Linked DNA regions of Homo sapiens: region 2 is linked to region 1. Evidence: fine-mapped expression QTL. Tissue or cell type: whole blood. Region 1 holds a variant in brackets; the other region holds the start of a gene. All regions are shown on one strand. Distances are from middle to middle.

The links. PIP is the estimated chance that this variant, and not a neighbour inherited with it, causes the effect.
Region 2: it holds the start of KIAA1191, and the variant in region 1 is fine-mapped to the expression of KIAA1191 in whole blood (GTEx, PIP 0.95).

Annotation. Positions count from the first base shown.
Region 1 is chr5:176,016,017-176,027,400 of GRCh38, forward strand. The region is part of intron 3 of LOC124900194 (a long non-coding RNA gene); the gene reads right to left. Among named protein-coding and RNA genes, the nearest start is that of THOC3-AS1, 50 kb to the left of the region's middle. The variant G/A (reference allele first, on the strand shown) is at 4,051.
Region 2 is chr5:176,356,784-176,367,343 of GRCh38, forward strand. KIAA1191 reads right to left here and starts at 4,981. Exons shown (of 9, transcript NM_020444.5): 1 at 4,819-4,981; 2 at 3,028-3,135; 3 at 2,698-2,784. The coding sequence starts at 2,725. It overlaps ARL10 (ARF like GTPase 10), which reads left to right and starts at 8,704. Exons shown (of 4, transcript NM_173664.6): 1 at 8,704-8,963; 2 at 9,597-9,798. The coding sequence starts at 8,781. RefSeq lists enhancers at 4,737-5,056, 8,169-8,418 and a silencer at 8,569-8,958.

The DNA of each region.
Region 1 (11,384 bases):
ATCCTATTTTAAAAACATGTTAATTTTGAGATACCTAAAAGAAACACTTGCTGAAGTATGAAAGTGATCGAGGAAATGGGGAGATGTGAGTCAAAGGACACAAAATAGCAGATATGTGGGATGAACGAGTCTAGACATCTAATGTACAACATGAGGGCTAAGGTTAATACGATTGTAATGTACTAGGGATTTGTGTTCGATAGATTCTAGCTGCTCGTCACAAAAAAGTAACTACGTGAGATGATAGATATGTTAATCAGCTTCATTACAGTAACTGCTGTACTAGCTATATGTATCCCATAATATGTTGTAATCCTCAAGTGTACACAATAGCATTTATTTTTAGAAAACAAGTGATACTATACTCTGGTTTGATATGTTATTTCTGTCAATTAATACTACACTTTGCATGTTAAGCACTGTCATACTATTAGATAACACTGCTTACAAAAATACTATGGATACTATGAAATTATTTTGACCCAAACAATGACCTTTCTTTTTTTTCTTTTGAAACAGAGTCCCCCTCTGTCACCCAGACTGGAATGAGTGATGTGATCTCAGCTCACTGCAACCTCTGCCTTTGAGCTCAAGTGATTCTCCTGCCTCAGCCTCGCGAGTAGCTGGGACTACACGCATGCGCCACCACACCTGGCTAATTTTTTTTTTAATTCTTTTTAAATTTTTGAGGTGGACTCTCGCTCTGTTGCCCAGGCAGGCTAGAGTACGGAGTACAGTGGCGCAATCTCGGCTCACTGCAACCTCCGCCTCCCAGGTTCAAGTGATTCTCCTGCCTCAGCCTACTGAGTAGCTGGGATTACAGGTGCACATCACCATGCCTGGCTAATTTTTGTATTTTTAGTAGAGACAGGGTTTTACCATGTTAGCCAGGCTGGTCTCTAACTCCTGGCCTCAAGTAATCCTCCCGCCTCGGCCTCCCAAAGTGCTGGGATTACAGACCTGAGGCACTGCACCTGGCCACAACGACCTAATTATTTAAGGAATAAGTGGGATGTTAATGGCCCATTTTATAATTCAAATCCTGGTGATCATGAGTATATTAACTTATATTCTTTTCTATATTTAAAAAAATAAGCAGTGTGTTATTACACTATAGTTTTGCAAGATGTTGCCATTGCAGAAGCTGGGTGAAGCATACATAGGATGTCTTTGATTATTTATTATACCAGCATGTGAACCAACAATTATCTCAAAAATCAAAGTTTAATTAAAAAAAAATTAACCAAAGATCAAGGGGATAGATGATAGGGATAGGAAATGAGTTAACAAAATCCTTTATCCATCTCTGTAAAACAATTTGACCTTGGGTTAGCTTACTACCGCAGTTCCCCTACCTACCAAGAAAGCACGTCAACTATGTTCCTAAAGCAACTTATTTATAGTTCTGATTGCCTTGGTAACCTGCTAGAAACACTCATCAGTTTCACTACTAGGCAACACTGCTTATGACAAGCCTGACTCCTGGTTGGTAAACTGTATCTGAACTTGGCAAGCCCCTTGCAGGAACACTGAAAACCACACTCACTATATTCATAGGTTACTATAAGATAGTGGGTCTGGTAGGGCTTAGGGCTTCAAAGCCAGCGTGAGTTCTTCTTACCTGAGCTGTCACTTGACACATCAGAAGAAACAGCTGCTGAATACCTGTGCGTGCTTTTTTTGTTTTTGTTCTTGAGACAGAGTCTCACCCTGTCACCTAGGCTGGAGCACAGTGGAGGGATCTTGGCTCACTGCAACCTCCGCCTACTAGGTTCAAGCGATTCTCCTGCCTCAGCCTCCCGAGTAGCTGGCATTACAGGTGTGTGCCACCACACCTGGCTAATTTTTGTATTTTTAGTGTAGGCAGGGTTTCACCATGTCGACCAGGCTGGTCTCAAACTTCTGACCTCAGGTGATCCACCCACCTCGGCCTCCCAAAGTGCTGGGATTACCGGTGTAAGACACTGCGCTTAGCTGCTTTTTTTTGTTTGTTTTTTAATTTAGATTTTCCTTTTTTGGAATCAGGGTCTCTCTCCATCACCCAGGCTGGAGTATAGTGGCACAATCATGGCTCACTGCAGCCTCCAACGGCTGGACTCAAGCAATCCTCCCACCTCAGCCTCCTGCATAGCTGGGACTACAGACACACACCACCCCCACCACATCCAGCTAATTTTTAGGGGGGTGTGTGTGGTTTTTTTTTGTTTTTTGTTCTTTTAAGAGACAGGTTCTCACTATGTTGCCCAGGCTGGTCCCGAGCTCCTAGGCTCAAGTGATCCTCCCTCTTCAGCCCCTCAAAGTGCTGGGATTACAGGTGTGATCCACAAGCCCAGCCTGTATGTGCTTCTTAAAAGACTACTCTCACTGATGGACAATGTCTGACACAGACAATCTCACATGCTGTGCTCCCTGCATTTAATCCAAACATCATTGAAGCAATGTGATAGTGTGAGGCAATGTAATAGGTGAAGCTGTGGCTGCTGAGCCAGAAGATATTTCTGAACACTTGGTCAGGAGGATGATCACCCAAAAGTTACACCTATCTAATCTTTGAAGCTCTAATCCATCATCTAAGCTCTTCATGTTAAGACCCATGGGTATGTTTATTAACCATATTTATTAACCTCTCCTTCTTGGGACAGAAAACGTTTACCTCAACTTAAAGATTGTTGCTCAGATTTGTCCTTCTGTGTGGGTCATAGCTGCCTGGTGTCTGGAAGCCTTGGGAACACCCTGGCTCTGTTCCTCCAACACAGAATCATGCGCTTTGTGAATGTGCTGCTTTAGGCATTCAGCTGCAGGGGAAAACTTTAAAGGTTAACTTGAAATATTTGCAGAGAATATTCTGTGGTAGCAAGACATTAACATAACACAATTTGCTGCTACTTGGTCTTTGCTAAACAAGCTATTGCTACTTGGTGTTTGTTAATGAAAGGAGCTCTTAAGACTCTTATGAATTTGTCCTGCTTAAAATATATTATATTGGGCTGGGCGTGGTGGCTCACACCTGTAATCCCAGCACTTTGGGAGGCCACGGTGGGCAGATCATGGGGTCAGGAGGTTGAGACCATCCTGGCTAAAACGGTGAAACCCCATCTCTACTAAAAATACAAAAAATTAGCTGGGCATGGTGGCACGCACCTATAGTCCCAGCTACTAGGGAGGCTGAGGCAGGAGAATTGCTTGAACCCAGGAGGCAGAGGTTGCAGTGAGCCGAGATGGCACCACTGCACTCCAGCCTGGGCAACAGAGTGAGACTCCGTCTCAGAAGAAAAAAGAATCATATCGTCTCAAACAGGCAGCGAAGATTGAAATGTTGCCACCCATAGGATTCTTCACTGGAGGTGACTAAGACCAGCATAAGTCCGTGTTATTTGCACCACTAAGTCATATTTCTCAGACTGATGTATTGCCAAACCAAGAAATGGAAAGTATTAAGATAATGTCAATAATAACATGAATGAGAATAGAGTAAGTGTGGACCACTTGTTAGAACTGGCTCGATTACAAACGTGTTGCTCAAACCTAATAGCTTTAGTCTTCTTCAAGAAGATTAGATTTGGATTTCAATTAGTGTTACTAACTGGCATGGGTATAATGATATGCTGAACCTGTAATATGATTACAGGTTCAGGTCCTTATTTGTTATATTATTAGACAATTTCTGTTAAATGTCATATAAGAAAAGTGTAAAAGATGATTGCAGAATCGGAACCGTGGGATGAAGCGGAACGTGACACACTGAGGTCTTACGGGTGGTAGAGCAATTTGCTCCCAACTGGGACCATCTGAAGGCACAAGGCTGTGCCCCAGCTCAGGTCCACAGCTAAACATTGAGAAACATATCAGCAGAATGCAGAGCCTCTCCTCCGGTAAATTACTTGAGATGAAAGTTCTTAACCAACATGAAATAACTGAACTGAGTTTGATAAAATTCAGCTGGGCCTTTCAGGGGCCTTTCCCACCAGCAGAACCCTCATTTGGGAAAAGTAAATTTGCCAGGAGAAAGTTAAGAGAGGCTACGTTGAGTTAACTTGAACAAGCGGCTAA[G/A]GGACAGTTTAAGTTTATACGGCAATTAGAGGTTTAATGAAATTTAATTTACAGCTGGGAGAATAAGAAATTGCTCTGTCTACTTGGGGACATCCAGCATCACTGCAATTCTCGACTGTCTTCAGACCTGCTTGTATCCTTTCCTACCAAATAAGCATGTTTCACAGAGACTTCTAAGACTGAGATGTTAATTTGCAAGAGACTTGAGCAGACATTTTGCAAAGGAATATATACAAATGGCCCATAAACACATGAAAAGGTGCTCAACGTCATCTGTCTTCCGGGAAATGCAAATTAAAACTACAATGAGATACCACTATATAGTCAGGCTAAAATGAAAAAGATGCCACTAGCAAGTGCTGGTGAGTATATGAGCGGTCAGAACTCTTATACACTGCTCTTGGGGGTGTACAGTGATACAACCACCTTGGAAAACTATAGCAGTTTGGAATAGAGTTAAACATCACCTACTGCTATGGACAGAATGTTTGTGTCCCCTCCTAAGTTCATATCTTGAAGCCCCAACTTCCACTGTGATGGTTTTGGAGACAGGGCTTTTGGGAGATAATTAGGGTTAAAGGAGGTCATGAAGATGGGGCCCTTGCAATGGGATTAGCATCCTTATAAAAAGAGACTCCAGAGAACTTGCCCTCTCTCTTCCTGTGTTGTAATTTCTTTCTAATGTGGTCTTGAGGCATCTCTTTCTGGAGAGTGGCTACAAACAATAACCCTGCCCTCACAGGGCACCAAGCATGTTGCTCATAAAAGGAATGTTTACAGTTTACCTTTCACAGGATCCTTCTTGATCCTGGCAGGTGGCCTCATGCCCAAGTGCTCAACCTGTGACAGATGTCCCTTTCACAGGAAGCTTGTATATAGAGGACGATGCCCTTGTAGCTGTTGTCTGACCTGTGTTCAATTTATTCCTACCAAGACAGCCACTCTCTAGGGCAGCCCTGATGAGGAGGGTTGGGTTCGGGTGTGTCAGTCAGGTGAGACACAGTGTGTGCAATAAAACACATGAAATAGCAGGAGTAGTTGATTACTCACAGATCCCAGAGAGAGGAGGGCACCATGCCTCGCAGGGCCAGCAGGAAGTGGGGAGCCATTCAGGATACCCACGTTTAGCCAGCAGGTGGGGACTGAAAGAGAGAGGACCTCTAGGACTAAAGCCTTTATTGGGGTCCAGGGTGTGACCCCAGCAAGTTTCCCATAGGAAGCTCTAATTGATTGTTTAGAGCAAGCAGGCACGAGCTCCAGGTGATCATGCTGTGACTGGGAAGTGGGCACTGTGGTGTATCTGGGCAGACCACGTAGGGTGAGGGGTCAGAGGGTGAGTCAAGGGCAGACCACGCAGGGTGAGGGGTCAGAGGGTGAGTCAAGTACGTTGTATCCAGCTCCCCTCCAGGGAGGTGGTGCCTGGGAGGTGGCTGTACATGGCAGATATCTGAGTTGACCACTTTGAGGAACTGGAAGGAGTTAAAGAACTGGAAATGGTGTTAAGGGTAATTATGCCATGCTTCTGGTATGAGAAAGTCCAACTTAAATTCAAAACGGGGGCCGGGCATGGTGGCTCATGACTGTAATCCCAGCACTTTGGGAGGCTAAGGTGGATGGATCACTTGAGGTCAGGAGTTTGACACCAGCCTGGCCAACATGGTGAAACCCTGTCTCTACTAAAAATGTAAAAATTAGCCACGCGTGGTGGTGCATGCTTGTAATCCCAGCTACTCGGGAGGCTGAGGCAGAATCGCTTGAACTCGGGAGGCAGAGGTTGTAGTGTGCCAAGATCACGCCACTGACTTCCAGTGTAGGTGACAGAGTGAGATTCTGTCTCAAAAAACAACAACAACAAAAATGGATTCCATGGCAACATAAAATTGTAGGAATTCACTACACCATGCACCTACACAAAGAAGTAATCACAGGTACACACATAGGGAGACAACTTGTAGGCACAAACCAAGAGAAGAGGCCTCAGAATGAAATCCACCTTGCCAGCACCTTGACCTTGGACTGCCCAGACCAGAACTGTGAGAAATTTCTGTTAAGTTACCTAGTCTATGGCATTCTGCTATGGCCACACAAGCAGACCAATATACCTAACTAACAACCATCAATTCTGTCTTCGGTATTTGTCCACAGGAGATGAAATCCATGTCCACTACAAGACTTGTACACTAATGTTCACAGCAGCCTTACTCACAATAACTTCAAAACAATGCAAATATCCATCAATGGTAACTGGAGAAACAAATTGTCTGTGTGTGCAGTGCAATACTCCACAGCAATGACAATGGAACTACTGCTACGCAGGGCAGCACACATGAATCTCATGAGTGATACAATTTCATGAAAGACGCCAGATGCAAATAAAGCACAGACTATATGATTCCATTTGTAGGAAGTTTTAAAACTGGTGACATTAACCTATAGGGGAAGAAGTCGGTCACTGATTCAAGAAGTACCTTCTTGGAGAGCACCAATGTCCCCACAGAGAGCCGCCAAGAGTCACCAACCAAAAAAAATAGAGATGGATGGAAAGCTCCCAAGCTGCAGGGTTCTTCCCACGCAGAACCAGAACGCAAAGGAAATGTGTGGACACCACAGAAAAGGAACCAACACCAGGACAGGGGCCGGGAGGAGGAGGAACAAGGGTTCTGAGCGAGAATCGGTCCTCCAGGGATGGTCGGGGATTGCACGCAGTGGCCATGCTGCGAACGCTCTCCCCAGCCCCCACCACTGGACAGATTGTTTTGAAGATGTTGAAAGAACTTTTCTTAAGACAAAGAGAATGATCTGCGGGTTTCAAAGTCAATGGCATCACATATTTCAACGTCGTCCAGAAAACAGCCTCTCCTGGTAAATCCTGTCTCTGGTTATTCCTCACAGACTCAGCCCAGCTCCTGGGCAACATCAAAGTCAGCTTCCCCTGGGAACCCAGTGAGTGTCTGCTCCCATCTTCTCCTTAATGAACAGCCAGTCTGTAGGCTTTAAATATAGTCTGCCACTATCTGTTTAAATTGTTGTGTACATTCACACACACACACGTGCACACATGCACACAACAGCTTCTGTCAGCTTGCGGGGACATCCATTTTGTAAGCAATGCAAATTAAAGCTGTGATCCAATCTGGGTGAACCTCCTCCTCCCCGACTTAGAATCGAAGCAGAGTGTACTGCGGCAGGGAGCTGGGGGACGACGACGCAACCTTTGAAGACCTGCCTCTAAAAAGAGTCAAGTCTTGTCTGTATCAGCAGAACTTAAAATTAAAAGGCAAGAGCCACAGCTCTCACCAGCTCTTTAAAAGGTTAAAATTGGCTGGGTGCAGGCTGGGTGTGGTAGCTCACGCCTGTAATCTCAGCACTTTGGGAGGCCGAGGCGGGCGGATCACGAGGTCAGGAGCTCGAGACCAGCCTGGCCAAGATGGTGAAACCCTGTCTCTACTAAAAATACAAAAATTAGCTGGGCACAGTGGCATGCACCTAATTTTTAAAAATTAGCCAGACAAGGTGGCATGCACCCGCAGTCCTAGCTACTCAGGTGGCTGAGGTGGGAGGATTCCTTGAGCCCAGAAGTTCGAGGCTGCACTGAGCCGAGATCGTGCCAGTACACTCCAGCCTGGTGATAAAGTGAGGCTTTGTCTCTAAATAAATAAATAAATAAATAAATAAATAAATAAATAAAGTGTCTGGAAATTGTCCTAAGGGCATACAGCAAATGAAGAAATATTTATTCTAGAAAATCTACAAAAATTCAGAAAGAACCATGAGTCTCTGTGATATTGAGCTACAACCCACTCCCTTCTCCTCCTTCCCCCAGCTCAGAGTGATGGAGGCTCTGCTCCAGGTAGGTCGGGTTAAGAGTAGGTGGTTCCCTCCTTGCTCAGCTGCCACTCAAGCTCACCATATCACACTGGGAGGCATGGGCTGCCAGCATTTCTCATCCCCTCTCTTGAGGAACCACAAAGAAAAGAACTGAAAAATATAGTTAAAGAATTATTAAAGTAACCAAAATGTGACACTGGAAAATATTTACTGAATGCAAAAGAATGTAGTAAATAAGGTAGGAGAGAACAAAGAAAGACATGAGACATAGAAAACATGAATGACAGACACAGATCCAACCATATAACAAAATCCTTAAATGTGAACAGATTAAACAATCCAATTAGAAGGCAGAGATGTCAGGCTTGGTTAAAAAACAAACTATATGCTGTCTACAGGAAATACACTTTAGATTCAAAGATACAAACAGGCTGAAAGTAAAAAGATGGGAAAAAGACATACCGTGAAAACAGCAACCATAGCAAGCTGGAATGGCTATATCAATATGAGACAAAATAGACTGTAAAAATGTTACAAGAGGCCGGACGTGGTGGCTCACGCCTGTAATCCCAGCACTTTGGGAGGCGGAGGTGGGTGGATCACTTACGCTCAGGAGTTCAAGACCAGCCTTGCCTACATGGTGAAACCCCATCTCTACCAAAAATACAAAAATTATCTGGGTTGGTGGCAAGTGCCTGTAATCTCAGCTACTAGGGAGGCTGCGGCAGGAGAATCACTTGAACCTGGGAGGCGGAGCTTGCAGTGAGCAGAGATGGCACCACTGCACTCCAGCATGGGTGACAGAGCAAGAGACCCTGTCCCAAAAATTAAATAAATAAATAAATAAATAATAAAAAATAAATTAAAATGTTACAAGTGATAAAGAGGGACATTTTATAATGAACAAAGTGTCAATTCATCAGGAAGACACAACGGTTATAAACATATGCAACTAACGAAAGAGACCCAATATGATGCAAAAATGAACCACAGAACTGAAAGGAGAAATGGACAATTGAACAGTAATAGTTGGAGACTTCCATACCCAACTTTCTTTTTTTTTTTTTTTTTTTTGAGATGGAGTCTCCCTCTGTCGCCCAGGCTGGAGTGCAATGGAGCTCTATCTTGGCTCACTGCAAGCTCCGCCTCTGGGGTTCACACCATTCTCCAGCCTCAGCCTCCCAAGTAGCTGAGACTACAGGTGCCCGCCGCCATGCCGGGCTGATTTTTTTTTGTATTTTTAGTAGAGATGGGGTTTCACCGTGTTAGCCTGGATGGTCTCGATCTGCTGACCTCGTGATCTGCCTGCCTCTGCCTCCAAAAGTGCTGGGATTACAGGCGTGAGCCACCATGCCCAGCCTTCCATACCCAACTTTCGAGAACAGATACAACAGCTAGATGAAAGATTAACAAGGATATAGAAGATGTGAACATTGTTAATCCAACCAGACTAACAGATATCTACAGAACACTCCAACCAACAGAGGCAGAACACACATTCTTCTCAAGCACACACAGTACATTCTCCAAGACATACCATGTGCTAGGCCATAAAACAAACCTCAATAAATTTAGAAAGACTGAAATCATATAAAGTACATTCTGTGGCCACAGTAGAAATTAGAATTCAATAACAGAAGACCATTTGGGAAATTCACAAACATAGAAAAATTAAATGTCACACTCCTAAATAACAAAGGGATGCTATGGTTTGAATGTATCTCTCAAAACTCATGTGTTGAAAGCTTAATGCCCAATGGAACAGTATGGGCAGGTGGGGACCAATGGGAGGTGTATAGCTCATGAATGGAAACGCCACTATAAAAAGGGCCCATGGAAGCAGTTTCTATCTCTGTCTCCCTGCCCCCACCTCCTGCCATGTGAGAACACGGTGTTTCTCCTCTCTGGAAGACACAGTGCTCAAGGCACCACCTTGGAAGCAGAGAAACCAGGCCCTAACCTGCTAGCACCTTCATCTTGGATTTCCTAGCCTCTAGAACTATCAGAAAATAAATTTACATTCTTTTTTTTTTTTTTTTTTTTTGAGACAGTCTCGCTCTGTCGCCCAGCCTGGAGTGCAGTGGCGCAATCTCGGCTCACTGCAAGCTCCACCTCCCGGGTTCATGCCATTCTCCTGCCTCAGCCTCCCGAGTAGTTGGGACTACAGGCGCCCACCACCACCCCTGGCTAATTTTTTTTTTTTTTTGTATTTTTAGTAGAGATGGGGTTGCACTGTGTTAGCCAGGATGGTCTCGAACTCCTAACCTCATGATCCGCCCGCCTCGGCCTCCCAAAGTGTTGGGATTACAGGTATGAGCCACCGCACCCGTCCAGGTTTGTTTTAAATTTATTGAGGCTTGCTTCATGACTGAGCATGCGATTGATCTTAGAGAGTCTTACCTGTGCAGATGAGAAAAATGTATATTCTGTGGTTGTTGAGTGGAGTGTTCTGTAGAAAACTATTAGGTCTAACTGGTCAAGTGTTGAGTTTAAGTCCAGTTTCCTTGTTAATTTTCTGTGTTAATGATCTGTCTAACGCTGTCAGTGGGGAGTTGAGGTCTCCCTCAACTGTGTGGTTGTCTAAGTCATGTTGTAGGCCAAGAAGAACTTGTGTTATGAATCGGTTGTTCCAACGTTGGGTGAATATATATTTAAGATAGTTAAGTCTTGTTGGATTGTACCCTTCATCATTATATAATGGCCTTCATTGTCCTACTTAATTTTTATTGCTTTACCATTTGTTTTATCTAAGAATAGCAATGCCTGGGCTGGACGCGGTGGCTCAGACTTGTAATCCTAGCACTTTGGAAGGCTGAAGCAAGTGGATTGTTTGAGCACAGGAGTTGGAAATCAGCCTGGGCAACGTGGCAAAACCCCATCTCTACCACAAAATACAAAAATTAACCAGGTGTGGTGGTGCATGCCTGTAGTCCCAGCTACTCAGGAGGTTGAGGTGGGAGGATCACTTGGGAGGTTGAGTGCAGCGAGCCATAATCACACCAGTGCACTCCAGCCTCGGTGACAGAGCCCATCTCCAAAAAAAAAAAAAAAAAAAAAAAATGGTGACTTTTGCATGGTAGATATTTCTCCATCCCTTTACTTTGAGCCTGTGGATGTTGTTACACGTGAGATGAGTCCTTGAAGATGGTGGGTCTTGCCACTGGATCAGAGATTTAAGTGTAAGGCCTCAAACCATAAGAACTCTAAAAGAAAACCTAGGAAATACCATTCAGGACATTGGCCTTGGGAAACAATCTATGACTAGGTCGTCCTCAAAATCAATTGCAACACCAACAAAAGTTGACAAGTGGGACCTAATTGAATGACAGAGCTTCTTCACAGCGAAAGACATTATTAACAGAGTAAATATACAACCTATGAAATGAGAGAAAATATTCCCCAACTATGCATCTGACAAAGGTCTAATATCTGCATCTGTAAGGAACTTAAATCAACATGCAAAATATAAATAACCCTATTAAAAAGTGGGCAAAAGATATAAATGG
Region 2 (10,560 bases), 340 kb after region 1:
ACACTCTCTAAGACATCAACCTGCCTGGCAATAAGTCCAAAACCACAAAAGGTTTCATTTAAACGGCAAGGGGACCAAGCAGCTATCATTATTATTACTATTGCTATTAGTAATAATTAACAAAACCATAGAAATAAAAAGAGGATTAGAGGTTGCCAGGGAGTGGGTGGGGGGAGTGAGGATACGACTGCTAATGGTACGAGGTTTTCCTTTGGAGGTTATGAAAACGTACTGCAGTTTGGATGGGTGTGGTGGCTCACACCTGTAATCCCAGCACTTTGGGAGGCTGATGTGGGTGGATCACCTGAGGTCAGGCGTTCCGGCCTAGCCAACATGGTGAAATCCCATCTCTACTCAAAATACAAAAATTAGCCAGGCGTGGTGGTACGTGCCTGTAGTCCCAGCTACTTGGGAGACTGAGGCAGGAGAATTGCTTGAACCCAGGAGGCGGAGGTTGCAGAGAGCCAAGATCGTGCCACTGCATTCCAACCTAGGCAACAGAGCGAGATTCCATCTCAAAAAAAAAAAGAAAAGAAAAGAAAATGTGCTGCAATTGATCGTAGTGTTGTTTGCACAACCCTGTGAATATACTAAAAATCACGACATTGTTCACTTTCAGTGGGTGAATTTTATGATATGTGCATTACATCTCAAACACACACACAAGCAAATAATAATTACTAAGTCTTCCTCCTTGCTAGACAATTACATCCCTCATCTTATCTAATCCTCATGAAGCAGATATTCTTCCCATTTTCAAATTTTCCATTTTCACAATCAACTTGCCCAATATCACCTAGCTTGAAAGAGTGTGCTGGGAACTGGAACACAGACCTGAGCCGGTGCACACACTCTGCATGCAACACACTACAAAGCATTCACTGAATGGGCACAATCCTATGGCTCGCGACGGCTACACGGAGTTTGTGGTAATCACAGCAACAATGAAAGACAAACTAAAACGGAGCTGATGATGTTAAGACTAGAGATGGATCTATATTGGGGAATACGGGAGACTTGGGGAGCAATTTCAAAAACATCTTAAAGACTCCCACTGAACAGCCATCCTAAAACAAATAAAGTCAGCTAGTATTTACTGGAAAATATGTTCATATAAAGACAGACCAAATGCATTCTGGGCAGTAAATACATATTTATCACTGATTTTTAACTCCTGTTTTTACATATTTTGTTTAATCTTCACAACCCCGAGAGATAGGAACCATCATCTTTCTTCATCATCATACTTTACCGAGAATCAGAAATTAAGCGATTCAGATGTAATTAAAAATCACTTTCCTTTCTCATAAAACAATTCAAGTAGTCATCAATGGTGTCAATAACCCAGAACTTGACTCATTAAGGGTTGCTGTGAGCATTTTCATGATTAAGTTCAATCTGCCATTTAAGCAGGCTGGTGCCTTTTTACCAAGACTTCCATCCCACCTCCCCATCACCCCCAAAAAGGTGAGTTTAATCACTTTGGTACATACTACAAGAACTGCACAACTTATTCTGAATTATTATTTGATAACTAGGAAAGTAACAAACTTGTCATAATACCCTTAAATGAAGTGACTATTCTCTTTAAGTTAAAGTTTCATACTATGGCTGAGCGGCTAATAAAATATTTAAATGATGCCAATCTAAGGCTAGGCGTGGTGGCTCACACCTGTAATCCCAGCACTTTGGGAGGCCAAGGTGGAAGGATCACCTGAGGTCAGGAGTTTGAGACCAGCCTGGCCAACATGGAGAAACCCTGTCTCTATTAAAAATACAAAAATTAGCCGGGCGTGGTGGCAGGCAGCTGTAATCCCAGCTACTCGAGGCTGAGGCAGGAGAATCACTTGAGCCCAGGAGGCGGAGGTTGCAGTGAGCTGAGATCACACCACTGTATTCTAGCCTGGGCAGCAGAGTGAGACTCAAAAATAAAATAAAACTGGCTGGGCGTGGTGGCTCACACCTGTAATCCCAACACTTTGGGAGGCCGAGGCAGGCAGATCACAAGGTCAGGAGTTCCGCCGGGCACGGTGGCTCACGCCTGTAATCCCATTACCTTGGGAGGCCGAGGCGGGCGGATCACAAGGTCAAGAAATCGAGACCATCCTGGCTAACACGGTGAAACCTCGTCTCTACTAAAAATACAAAAAATTAGCTGGGCATGGTGGTGGGCGCCTGTAGTCCCAGCTACTCGGGAGGCTGAGGCAGGAGAATGGTGTGAACCCGGGAGGCGGAGCTTGCAGTGAGCTGAGATCGCGCCACTGCACTCCAGCCTGGGCGACAGAGCAAGACTCTGTCTCAAAAAAAAAAAAAAAAAAAAAGGTCAGGAGTTCCAGACCAGCCTGGCCAATATGGTGAAACCCCGTCTCTACAAAAAATACAAAAATTAGCTGGGTGTGGTGGCGGGCACCTGTAATCCCAGCTACTGGGGAGGCTGAGGCAGGAGAATGGCTTGAACCCAGGAAGCGGAGGTAGCAGTGAGCCGAGATTGTGCCGCTGCACTCCAGCCTGGGCAACAGAGCAAGACTCCATCTCAAAAAAATAAAATAAAATAAAATAAGCCAATCTAGTAAATCTAAATACTCGCTTGGTAGCAGAGATTAACCATTAATATATAGTTCCGATAAAATGGTTTCTGTCTAGCTTAAAACATTAATAAGGGCAAAACATGATTTTACCAAAAAGAATTAAGTTTACCAGGCACTTCTGGTTGTCTTGAAGCCATTGAAAGACTGGGATCCAGGTGCTTTTTCTATACAGAATTCCGAGCTGAGTCCCTGCCACCTAATAAAATAACAAAGGGCATTTTCTTATGGTGAGCAGCACCAATGCTGTTCTTCTGGCAGGCACACAGAATTGAACGGCTTGTTTACAAGGTTGAAACACACATGCAAGAGCCAGTGGGTGACAAACATGCCAATGAAAAAAGAAGGATAAAGTCAAACGTCTCACCACACCTGTGGCTGATCTTAACACCTGTGAGATGACAGAGCTAAGATGCCATACATGGTGAAAAAGTCACCTTACCACAGTGAAATGATGTGATGACTAAGCGGACAGACAGATGTTAATGAGGAACATGGTCCAGCTGCTGCAAAGTAGCAAAGCTTCCCAGGAAGAGTCCATCCAGAGGTTCTAATAACAACAAACAGCCAGCATTGGAACAGCCCGTCAGAGTCTGCCAAACACTTGTTTATTCCCCACAACAACCTTGCTCATTTCATTTTCTTAACTCACAGCAAGCGGCTAGATACTACAGTAGGGAAATTTGTTCTTTATAGCTAACACTATAAACTATTTACAGCGTTTATCTTGTCTTTTAATCCTTGCAGCAAGATGGCAAAGCAGATATTATTTATCCCAATCCCAATTTTTTTTTTTTTTTTTTTTTGAGACGGAGTCTCACTCTGTCGCCCAGGCTGGAGTGCAGTGGCGCGATCTTGGCTCACTGCAAGCTCCACCTCCCGGGTTCACGCCATTCTCCTGCCTTAGCCTCCCAAGTAGCTGGGACTACAGGCGTCTGCCACCACGCCTGGCTAATTTTTTGTATTTTTAGTAGAGATGGGGTTTCACCGCACTAGCCAGGATGGTCTTGATCTCCTGACCTTGCGATCCGCCCACCTCGGCCTCCCAAAGTGCTAGGATTACAAGCGTGAGCCACCGCGCCCGACCCCAGTTTTTTTTTTAAGCTATCTCTTACAGAAAGGCTATCCCAAATTTAAAGAGAAGGAAACTGGCCGGGTGCGGTGGCTCACGCCTGTAATCCCAGCATTTTGCGAGACCCAGGCGGGCAGATCACTTGAGGTCAGGAGTTCGAGACTAGCCTGGCCAACATGGTGAAACCCCATCTCTACTAAAAATACAAAAATTAGCCGGGCATGGTGGCGGGCGCCTGTAATCCCAGCTACTCGGGAGGCTGAGGCAGGAGAATAGCTTGAACCCGGGAGGCGGAGGTTGCAGTGAGCCGAGATCGAGCCACTGTACTCCAGCCTGGGCGACGGAGTGAGACTCGGTCTCAAAAATAAAAATTAAAAAAATTAAAAAAATGTTAAAAATAATAATAAAGAGAAGGAAACTAAAAATCAGAGGAGTTAAGTAAATTTGTCCACGGTCACAGATAAGTGGTCCGTGCGCAAGGTAGGTAGTTTCATGCCCAGTTTACAGGGGAGTTAAAACGAGGGCCTGAGAAAGTTACTCTTGTTTTTCAGCTTGCTACACCGTCCCTCTATCCCGATAGGACTCAGACAGAGCAAACAAGTTATTGATAGTTCTTCACTAACGAGCATCGCAAAGGCCGAATTCAGCCATCCTCCCAGTCCAGGGAGCATTCCCGCCCCAGACACGTCCCCTTCCCCTTTCCCTTTCCCTGTGCCCCCACCCCCCAGCTCACCGTCCCTCTGCCTCTCCTTCACAATATACAAGACGGTGCCGCCAGGATACGAAAGGCCGGCTGCTTCACCCACCCCTCCAGGCTAAGATTAGGGCCAGGACCCTAGCCGAAGGCGGGGTGTGGGGAGATGAGGTTGAGGACAAGCCGCGGGGGCTCGGGCTGGGCTGGTCCCACGAAGCGGAGGGGAAGCCCGTACGGGAGCTGCAGGGCATTCCCGGAGAGAAGCCCCATTACGGAGACCCCAGAGAGCGGAGCCAGGGAGGCAAGAGGCGACCCAGCCGAGCTCGAAGCCGGGATGAAGGGTTAAGAGGTGCGGGGAGAGGGGAGTGGCTTGGAGGGGCCCCGAGATCGGGCCTCGCCGGAAGCGCCCCTCCTGATCGCCAGAGAACGCAGCCCCAAGGGAGGGCCCAGGCCCGCCATCTGTTCACCTGTGATCCTGCTGCCGCGGGACTGCCTGCGGCCCGGAGTCCGGCACTAAAAAGGTTCCGAGGGCCCACGTCTCCCGAGAGGCTGTGGCGCAGTCTGGACCCAAGCCATTGTGAGAGCGGCGGCGATTTCGAAGGTCCCCAAGACCCACTAGGTAGCAGTACCACCCAGCGGGCAGGCAGCACTGCAGATAAAGCCTCCGGAGACCGCGGGATCTCGCGCGAGACTTGGCCCAGCGGAGCACAGGGCATGCTGGGAGTTGTTGTCCACGATCGCGAGACCCGCCCCCTCCCCATGCCCTTCGCCGCCCAGCGAGTTGTGGAGCCGCAGCTCCGAGTGTGGAATCCGCCAGCCCCGAGAGGAAACGCCACACTTCACCACCACTTCCTCAGCGCGTGTGCTGTGCCTGGGTCCGTGACAAGCTAAGGGAAGACGGAGGTAGCATAGTAAAATGACACCCACAAACCCAAGCCCTCAAGGCTCAAAAAGGGCTGCCAAGTGCGAGCACTTGTCATCCTGTTTTTCCCACTTCACGGAGGTGAAGCTGAGACTGGGAGAGATGAGAAGTCACTTCGATTAGCAAGCGGTGCAGTGAGCACGGACTGTCTCCCAAAACAGCGGGGTTAGGCAGGGTTCGTACTAGTAGCTGAACCAAAAAAGGGAACCGACCTCACCTGCCTCCCCTAGGGAAGGCGATCCTAATATCATTTCTCTTTTACATAAAGGAGAGTGAGGCTTAGAGGCGCCAGCTGAGGTGTCAGTCACATCCTGAAGGAAGACTTCTCTTATCCCTGAAGGGTTCACAAAGAAGGCGAAGCAACGAAGTTACAGCAGAATTTGCAAAAATCTATCCACGTTTCTACCCCAGTCCAAAGCTCGCCATCAAAACTCATCTCAGGAGAGCTATGATTGGTGGTGCAGGGTGAATGTCACATTTAGATTTCAGCATTTGAGGCTTCCAGCCGTACTGGCAGAACTGAGAGGCCTTGCTCATGCGACTTGAAACTTAAGCGCTGTTTCCAGACCAGGGTGCTTGAGTGCACTAAGAATTAAAGTCTTTGATGAATTCTATAATTAGCTTATCAACAGCACAATTACATTGCAGTATAATTGTGTGTATATGTGTGCGTGCGTGTGTGTGTTAAAGGTGTTCCTTTGTTAATTTGGAGCTTTTAAAATATGCCATATTTTTTAACCTCTGTGGAAGCAAAGCTGGCACCTTGCTCTTTATCCACCACAGGAAGGGATGTATATCACCTCTCAGTCAGAAAAGGAAGAAATAGCACTTTGCACCCTTATGTAGATCATAAGGTGGGATCATCTCATTTATTTCTTAGCCACAAATACATGAAAACTTAAGACTTTCCTGGAAGTTACTATTTGATTAAAACAACTTTTTCTGGCTGGGCACGGTGGTTCAGGCCTGTAATCCCAACACTTTCAGAGGCTGAGGCGTTCGAGACCATCCTGGCCAACACGGCGAAACCCCGTCTCTACTAAAATACAAAAATCAGCCAGGCGTAGTGACAGGTGCCTGTAATCCCAGCTATTCTGGAGACTGAGGCAGGAGAATCTCTTGAACCTGGGAGACGGAGGCTGCAGTCTGCCTTGTCCTAGGTACCCCCAGTGACTGCCAAGGCTTCCACGTGTGTAGCACGAGGAGGAAGAACAGGAGAAACGACCTGAGTACAGCAGTCGGGTTCTTTTGGCTCTCCAGAGGGGTGACGCCATGTACGGCTGGCTGTAGGGTACATGGGTTGAGAGACCGCCTGTGGCTCTCAGGGCCCAGCAGGGCTACCTCTTTCCCTTTATATTGTCTCAACTCTTCACCTCCTTTTAGTTCGCGATTCCTCTGTACCCCTGGCTCTGGGTCCCAGCCCCTATTCCTTCTGATTTGTCCCCCTTTCCCTTTGACTACATATATATGCTCCTCTCCTCCCAGATAGTGATGTTTTAGCTACATCTTATTTCTTCCGGCATTGATTCTTTTGAAAAATTTATTTCTGGCTGGGTGTGGTGGCTCATGCCTGTAATCCCAGCACTTTGGGAGGCCTGAGATCACACTACTGCACTCCAGCCTGGGCTACAGAGTGAGACTCCATCTCAAAAAAAAAAAAAACTTTATCCCTGATATTTGTGGTACCAATGTCTGAAGCTGTCATGGTCTTGGTGCATAGCACCTATGTGAGAGCACCTATTTCTTTTCCACAAATAATAGACTGTAAACATTTTTTTTTTTTTTTTTTTTGAGACAAGGTCTCGCTCTGTTGCCCAGGCTGGAATGCAGTGGCGCAATCTCGGCTCACAGTAACCTCTGCCTCCCAGTTTCAAGCGATTCTCCTGCCTCAGTCTACCAAGTAGCTGGGACTACAGGCGCCTGCCACCACGCCCGGCTCCACGCCCGGCTAATTTTTTGGATTTTCAGTAGAGATGGGGTTTCACCGTGTTAGCCAGGATGGTCTCGATCTCCTGACCTCGTGATCCGGCCGGCTGCCTCGGCCTCCCAAAGTGCTGGGATCACAGGCGTGAGCCACCGCACCAGCCAAACTTTTAATCTTAGCAATTTTGTGGGTTTTCCCCTCTAAGTGGGTGTATTTTTGAGGAGGAGCTAATTTTTTTTTCTTTTTTTTTTTTTTTGAGACGGATTCTTGCTCTGTCACCCAGGCTGGAGGGCAGTGGCGCAATCTCAGCACACTGCAACCTCCTCCTCCTGGGTTCAAGCGATTCTCCTGCCTTAGCCTCCTGAGTAGGTGGGATTACAGGCACGTGCCACCACGCCCGGCTAATTTTTGTAGAGATGGGGTTTCACCATGTTAGGCAGGCTATTCTCGAACTCCTGACCTCAGGTGATCCGCCTGCCTCGGCCTCCCAAAGTGCTGGGATTACAGGCATGAGCCACCACACCCGGCCAGAAATAAATTTTTCAAAAGAATCAATGCCGGAAGAAATAAGATGTAGCTAAAACATCACTATCTGGGAGGAGAGGAGCATATATATGTAGTCAAAGGGAAAGGGGGACAAATCAGAAGGAATAGGGGCTGGGACCCAGAGCCAGGGGTACAGAGGAATCGCAAACTAAAAGGAGGTGAAGAGTTGAGACAATATAAAGGGGAAGAGGTAGCCCTGCTGGGCCCTGAGAGCCACAGGCGGTCTCTCGACCCATGTACCCTACAGCCAGCCGTACATGGCGTCACCCCTCTGGAGAGCCAAAAGAACCCGACTGCTGTACTCAGGTCGTTTCTCCTGTTCTTCCTCCTCGTGCTACACACGTGGAAGCCTTGGCAGTCACTGGGGGTACCTAGGACAAGGCAGTCAGCCCTAAACATTCTGAAGTCCTGACACTGCTTAATTCAGCCTGACCAGGACCCCAGCAAAACCCCTGTGGTCCGGGAGGCAGCGAAAGAAGGCTAGAGGTGGCGGGGAGCCACGGACCTGGGTTCTATTCCTGCCTCTGCCACCCCACTGCCGTGTGATATCGGGCGTCTTGCTTCAATTTCCTCCCGAGGTCTTGAGGGATGACCGGGAGACAGATCGCTTGGGTTTGAACGCAGGCTACACCAAAGCACTACGATGCGGCGTTGGGCGGGTTACTTAACTCCTGGGCCTCGGTTTTCCCTTCTGCGTGGTATCATTGTAAGGGGTAACGGAGAAAAGCCGTGAGCTAACCCCTGGTGGATGCTAGCAAGCACCGCCGTCTCCCGTCCTCCCCAGGCACAGCCTCTCCTTCCTCCACCCTGCACCTGGCAGGGGGACCGGAGGTCCCCGCGCGCCGGCCAGCGCCCCACCACCCACGCCGCCGGGTCCCGGGCGGCCTGCCGTGACAGCGGCAGTGCATTGTGGGGCTTGTAGTGCGGGACTGGGTCTGGGTGGGTGGGCGCGGCCGCAGCAGTCGCAGCGGGGCCATCTTCGGCGGGCGAGTGGGCTCGGCCTGTGCAACCCGCACCTGCGTCCCTCGCCCGGCCCGATGGCGCCGCGGCCGCTGGGCCCCTTGGTGCTGGCGCTGGGCGGCGCCGCGGCGGTGCTGGGCTCGGTGCTCTTCATCCTCTGGAAGACCTACTTCGGCCGCGGCCGAGAGCGGCGCTGGGACCGGGGAGAGGCCTGGTGGGGCGCGGAGGCTGCCCGCCTCCCCGAGTGGGACGAGTGGGACGTGAGTGCCGGGCCGAGGCCTGCGGAAGGGCGGGCAGGCTGGGCTGCGACTCCGCGCATGTGGCCAAGGGGTGTGACCACGGAACGGCCCTGCTGGTGCCGGGAGCTTGGGGGGTCGAGGGCTTGGCAGCCGCAGCGCACAGGCCCCGCGCGGGTGGGCGGTCAGAGCCCGGGAACCGAGGAACGGGTGGGTGTGCTTGGGTGCGTGCGGCGCCTTGGCGCCACGCCGTCGCTCCACGCCATGAGGCTCGGGTGTTCCAGCGGGGGCCGGAGTTTGGAGGGCGCGGCTCGGGAGCATCCCGGGGCCCAGCCGGGTCGGCTCGCGCCCCTCCGGCGCCTGCGCAGTGCACCCCGCCCGGGGGTGGGGATGTCGGGAGAAACCCCATCCCCTCCCGCCTGCGGTCGGGACTCCGAGACCGGTGGAGGAAGCGGGGCGCGCGAGCGTTTAAGGAATTCGCCAAGGGTTTGGAATTCAGGACTGCAAAGGCGGCGTTCGTCCCACTCATCCAGACCATGCCTGCCTGTCCCAGGACGGGTGGAAGGCGGGCCTGGGCCCTCTGGTGCCTTCGGTCTTCCCTCGGGAAAGGTCCTTCGGGAGGCCGCCAGCCGCAACCTTACCTCCGCTTCCCCGCAGCCCGAGGACGAGGAGGACGAGGAGCCGGCGCTGGAGGAGCTGGAACAGCGCGAGGTGCTGGTGCTGGGGCTGGATGGCGCAGGCAAGAGCACGTTCCTGCGCGTGTTGTCGGGGAAGCCACCGCTGGAAGGCCACATCCCCACCTGGGGCTTCAACTCCGTGCGTCTGCCCACCAAGGACTTTGAGGTGGACCTGCTAGAAAGTGAGCGGACACCCTACCCCATCTCCCCGTCTCCTCTACTGGACCAGTCCTGGATTCTCTGCAGGGAAGGGGGCTTCCAAAATGCATGTCTAAGCAGCACATTCCCCTCTACGAATCCTTCCCACCGCTCTCCGGGGCACAGGATTCAGCCCACGCTCTGTGCTCTGACATTTAGGGCCCTTCGTGATCGGGCCTCTCCAGCTGCACCGCCTGCCCCATCACCCCTACCAAAGTCGATAGGCCTAACACAGAGATACTAACAGCTAAGGGTTCATATGCCAAGCACTTGACGGGCATTGCTTAAGAAAACTCCCCTAAACAATTACATAAAACTAGAATCGGTCACTACCCTCGTTATCTCCAGAGGAAAATGAGTTCCAGCAGTAGTATCATGAATCCAAGGTCACCCACCTTTCTAGTCTTTTTTTTTTTTTTTTTTTTTTTGAGATGGAGTCTCACTGTGACACCCAGGCTGGAGTGCAATGGCGCTGTCTCGGCTCACTGCAACCTCCTCCTCCCGGGTTCAAGCGATTCTCCAGCTTCAGCCTCCTGAGCAGCTGGGATTACAGGCGCCCGCCACCACGCCCGGCTAATTTTTGTATTTTTAGTAGAGACGGGGGTTTCACCACATTGGTCAGGCTAGTCTTGAACTCCTGACCTCAAGTGATCTGCCCGCTTCGACCTCCCAAAGTGCTGGGATTACAGGCGTAAGCCATCGCACCCCACCATTCTAGTTTTTTTTTTTTGGAGACAGGGTCTCTG